2 separate regions of the Homo sapiens genome follow, and region 1 is linked to region 2. The links come from fine-mapping of genetic effects on gene expression. Tissue or cell type: whole blood. Region 2 holds a variant in brackets; the other region holds the start of a gene. All regions are shown on one strand. Distances are from middle to middle.

Region 1 (2,769 bases), 59 kb before region 2:
GCCAACATGGTGAAACCCTGTCTCTGCTAAAAATACAAAAAAAAAAAAAAAAATTAGCCAGGCATTGTGGTGCATGCCTGTAATCCCAGCCACTCCAGAGGCTGAGGCAGGAGAATTGCTTGAACTCAGGAAGTGGAGGTTGCGGTGAGACTCCGTCTCAAAAAAAAAAAAAAAAAAAAAAAAGGAGAGAGTAGGATGGCTGAGCCATGACGCAGTAGCAATGCTTCTTTTTTTTTTTTTTTTTTTGAGACAGAGTCTCGCTGTGTCGCCCAGGCTGGAGTGCAGTGGCGCGATCTTGGCTCACTGCAAGCTCCACCTCCCGGGTTCACACCATTCTCCTGCCTCAGCCTCCCAAGTAGCTGGGACTACAGGGGCCCACCACCACGCCCGGCTAATTTTTTGTGTATTCAGTAGAGACGGGGTTTCACCGTGTTAGCCAGGAAGCAATGCTTCCTATTCTAGCGCCTTGCTAAACTATGTGTGCTGCAGACTGTGTTCGTGATTCCGAATCCTAAAAACAACCGTCCTAGGCTTGTCTCTCAGCCTAGACTCTAGACTGATTTGGCTCATTTGGTTGTCTTGGAGACGTTCTAATTCTGAAGGGGGCAGTGGTCCCTTCTAGAAGATAGCTGGTCTGCAAATGCACACCTCTGCTTAGTCTGAATCCTAAAGTTATAGCTTGAGCCAATTAAAGTGGCTTCTCATTTTTCTCTCACTCTGATCTCAAGGAGCCCTTTTTCTTCTAGTAATCTAGACCTTCCTCTTCCTATCACAGTCTCAAGGATTGTGCCCCCAAAGCAGATGCAAAGCCCTGTCTACCCCTTCTCCTTCCCCTGAGGTAGAGCTTTATCGAAGGTTTCTCTTGGTAAACGTTAGCTTTCTGAACTAAGGGCCGTCTTTTTTTTTTTTCCCGCTTAAGCCCATTGCATAACAATCTCTTGTTTTAATCTTTTGCCCAACACTGCTTTTCTTACTGTCAGAGGTTACTACAAGTGTTTGAACAGGTAACTTCTACCTTTGAACTTCTGTTGTGACAGATTCAAAGGTTCCAGGGGAGTGTGTTGGCCACTCTCAGGACAGTACACAGTAGCTTCGGGTGTGTCCCAGTCAGTCCTAGGAGCTGTGGAAAGAGTAGAAGTGCCTGAATGTGGTGCTGAATCAATACAGCCAGCTGTGAGGGGAGCACTTCCTGGACCCAGGAAGGGAGAGTCTTCTTCCAAGGTAAGCTGCAATGATACTACCTGCACTATATTGAATATATCTGTGAGATAGTAGGGAGGGGATTGGTGTGGGGAAAGAAAGTGGGATTTGTTATGCTCAACCTAAGGCTCTTTAATAACATGAAATTACATTTAGTTGAATAGTAATCTCAGCTGACTTGTGTGGGAGGCAAAGAAAAAAATCAGTTGGAAAAGGGGTGGAGATATATGAGCTATCCAAATGCTAGCAGGGGATGGAATTGGAAGGGAACACTGATTTTGGTAAGTGTACTAAAGCACACCAAGCCAGAATGTGGGTCTCCTTCATCTTCCATTAAGAAATTTCTGTCTCAGTGTAGTTAGAAGGATCGTGCGTCAGCTGCTGAGGGCAGAGAGTCCCATTTGGCAGACAGAGAGGAAGGGAATCAGCAGATATTCGATTAGGTGCTGGGGACTGTTCTGGGTAGATTATGTATGTTACTTCATTGGTGTATCTCATCCTATAAAGCAGGTGGTATCCTTCCCATTTCACAGAGGCATAGTGCGTCTCCAGGCTGTTAAACAGCATGGCCTAAGCTACATAGCTCCAAGGTGGTGTGGCTAGAATTTGAGACTTGATTGGTCAGTTTCCACAGCCTGCCCAATAATGCAGAATTGTTGTGGGTTGCCAAAGCTTTCAGTTACCCCCTGAAATCCTGAGGGTGTCACTCATGTGCACAGAGGATTGATAGGAATACAACTCTGATGGGCCTTTAGAATGACTCAACCTTCCTGAACTTGAGCATTTTTACTGGAGGAGGTCAATAAAAAAAAAAGAAATAAAACCTCATCTTCCCCTGGCCCTGAGCCCTTTGGTGAAGGAAGACAGCACCCGGTGAAGGGCTCAGAGGTATTAGTGTGGCTGAGATTCGACACCCACTCTGCCATCCTCTGCTCTCCTCTAGAGGAAGTTGCCTCTTGGGGAGCTGAGTTCCTGAAACTAAGCAAATGACAAGTGCTCCTCCAGCCGTGAGATGAGCCAGAGGATGGAATGCCACAGGCCCCACTTCGTCTCCCAGCCCTTCATCTTTCTTCCATGTCCAAAGGCGGCTCCCCAGAGGCCAAGGGCTCAGCTCTTGTGTTCTCTGAGACTGTGGCACAGCTCACCCTGGCTTCCTTAGTAGGAAGCTTTTAAGAACTGCTCTGTAGAAAGAACAAACCCTAATCTAGCTCCAGCAAAGAGCCAGGATCATGCTGAACTTCCTGTGAGCCTTCGTGGGGGATCGAGGCTGGAGAAAGTGCTGCTTCATTCTGAGGTATCTGTGAGGTGGGGAAGGGGCAGGAAAATTTGTCATTTCGGCTTCCTAATCTGAGAATGGTAGCTCCAGGGCCCCCCTGTAGCCACAGCCTTAGGCGGATCAAAAATGAGACTAATACAGGTCCTGGTAATACTGGGGGTGACCAAGGCGAAAGAATCGATTTTTAAGTTAAGTTTTGAGGTGTGACTGTATCAGAGGGAAAGAAACCATGCCAATTGAACGACTCACAGCCCTGTCGTTCCTGACTTGCTTATTTTCTTGGCTTTGCCAGA
Region 2 (2,769 bases):
ATGAGCTCAAATGTTAGCTATCATTAAAAAGACCTGAAAAATACAAGAGCTATAGAGAAATATATAAGGAAGTTCCTTTTGTTGCTTAGTGATATACCCTTCTATGCAGTTCCCCTAATGCATTAGGCATGATTGGTTTATAAAAGTTATTCTTGTAAAATTTGGAATTATTGCTAATAGTCTTGTCCTTTAAACATGCCCTTCCATTTCCATACCTTCTATAAAGGAATCATCAAGAATTTTGTCTCCATATAACCAGTATCTGAAATATTTAAAAGATGAAAATTAATTTTTTAGGCTAGATATTAATTTTGTCCTTGAAGAAGAAATGCAGTACTTCCTATTACTTACCGTAAACCTCTTGTGGCTAAAATGAATTCCCCTTTTTGCAGCTGTATTCGAGGCTCTTCGGTGCAGGGACTTGTGAAGAAGGTTTTGATTCCTTTATTCAGAGGGCAGCAGGCACCACTATAATCTTCTATTACTTTATAGCGAACCTGTCGTCAGTGATCAGAAGAAACCTTTAAATATTCACCCATGATATCTGAGTTTTAAGTCTGAATTTCAAATTTTAAAGCAAGATCCAAAATATCCAGTGACAAGCCTTCTAGTTCCCCTTCTAGGGGAACCTCCCAGTTCCCCATCCACCTAGTTCCCTGGGAGGCAACTAATGTTTCTAGTTCTCAAGGCTTTTCTTACTCCTCTTTTCAAGCCCATAGCTAAGAATTAGAGTTAGAGCAGGGCTAAGAACATTCTGCCATGATGGAAATGTTCTGTATGTGTAGTATCCAATGCAGCAGCACTTGACACATGTAGCTACTGAGTGAGCACTTACAATGTAGTGAATGCAAACAAGAAACTGAATTTTTAAATTGATTTAATTTTAACAAATTTAAATAAAACAGCCACATGTGGCTGGTGGCCATCATATCCAACAACATAGTTGTAAGGATAGGTTTCACATTAAGGAGCTGTATTGAGGATAATTATTTTCCTATGTTGGCAATATAAATGGACTAAATTCCTCCCAACCTCTAGTCCCAATTATTTAAATAAAAACAAAAGTTAACTGCATCAAATTTCAACAAATGTATTAAGGAATACTATTTAATAAAGGCCAACAATTGGTTTCTAGTCAGTCAATTAAAAAAACTGTATGGAAGTACAGAGCCTAACAAAAGAAAAAAAAATTACCACTGCAAAAGAAGTACTTACACTTCTGACTCTCTTATCTGCTTTTTGTTTCAACTGTTCTATCTGTTTGGAAGAAATAAAAAGAAAAAAATGAAGTCTCTTGTCTCAATGTTGAAAAATCGCCTTTCCTCATCAACTGTCAGAGTGATATGGC[A/T]AAACCCCAATTTTCCAGCATTTCAAGTTGCTGATAATTTAAAGGCCACAGGTTGTTTTAGCATGGAAAAAAAGGCCCTATGCTAAGAACCAGAGGCTGAGAGTGAGGTTTTCTTCTCGCTATTCACTCTCTAATGTCCTCATCTGTGTATATTCCTAGAGTGCTTACTGTGGCCCAGGGATCAGGGAGTATATTCTCCGCCCTCATGAAGCTTCTCAGGTGAAAACACTGAGATTCACTGATTCTGTAGAGACATGGCAGACAAACTACAAATGAATAATGAAGAACATTTAATAATGAAGTTGAATGAATAAAAGTCATCATAACTTAATTTGACATAGCTACTATTAAATAGCACTATATTAGATATAATAGGAGAAATAAAGATAACTCATGATCTCTGTCCTAGAATCTTATGAAGTTACAGATATAAGATAGCAGAATTAAATAAAAATATGAGACTTCATGAGCTACCATAGAGTAGTATGTGATTAAATGTCACATTCAGATGAGTCTATGGGGGTAGGTTAGACTTTATGGAAGAGGTAAGACTGGAACGAGTCTTAATAATTTTAGATAGAGTGGAGGTCATATAAGATGGAAAAAATTGTGGGCAAAGTTGGGTGACAGGAATGTATAAGGAATTCATATGCTACTGTAAGTTGGAAGGTAATTTTTGGCCAGATTTCATAAAACTATGTTAAGGGATCAGGACTTTATCTCACAGGTATAGAGAATTAAGGAGATATTGAAATAAAGGGAGATACATGATACAAGGAGTGCTTTAGAATTATTAGATTCATTTTGACATAGTGAAAACATTCATATTACTTATTTTACTACAAAATGTCACTTGAGTTGAGGGGGAGTTAAGGGAAAGAAGGCGAGGCAAAAAGGAAGGGCTATTTGAACAAAAATACTCACTGTTAAGCTGTATTGGTGACAGCCTTCTCTTACTGGCCACTCAAGTCCATCTCCTTCAGGGACCCCTGACCACGTAAATACCTGTTTAAAGTTCCTCCATCTACTTCCCATATCATATGGAAAAACAAAGACTTCATCTAGTTGATAATACTGAATTCGATCTTTAGCCTGTGGGTAACAAAGATATAAGATGGCAGGTGCCTCTGTCTAAGTGGCCTGCAGTAATATGTTATTGAGAACACTTATTTCTCAAGTTTCTAACATTCATAAAAATACTTCCTCCTTGCTGTAATATTAGTGTACATGGAAGCAATAGACAACTTCATCACAATATAGGAAGAACTTGATATAGAACACCAGCCTTGTATGTGATTACCTAGGAAATATCTGACAGGGTTTCTTTAGGAATAAGCACTCATAAAGGCTTATTAAAAGTTAGCTAACTTTATCTCATACATAAAAAGTCCTCAATGCTCCTAGTTGTTCAGCAATACAAA

Evidence for each region. PIP is the estimated chance that this variant, and not a neighbour inherited with it, causes the effect.
Region 1: ACSL5 starts here. The variant in region 2 is fine-mapped to the expression of ACSL5 in whole blood (TOPMed, PIP above 0.99).

What each region holds. Positions count from the first base shown.
Region 1 is chr10:112,373,049-112,375,817 of GRCh38, forward strand. It overlaps ACSL5 (acyl-CoA synthetase long chain family member 5), which reads left to right and starts at 1,068. Exons shown (of 21, transcript NM_203379.2): 1 at 1,068-1,221. RefSeq lists an enhancer at 2,769.
Region 2 is chr10:112,432,025-112,434,793 of GRCh38, forward strand. ZDHHC6 (zDHHC palmitoyltransferase 6) reads right to left here. Exons shown (of 11, transcript NM_022494.3): 7 at 2,273-2,440; 8 at 1,216-1,257; 9 at 352-497; 10 at 216-262. Among named protein-coding and RNA genes, the nearest start is that of ZDHHC6, 14 kb to the right of the region's middle. The variant A/T (reference allele first, on the strand shown) is at 1,349.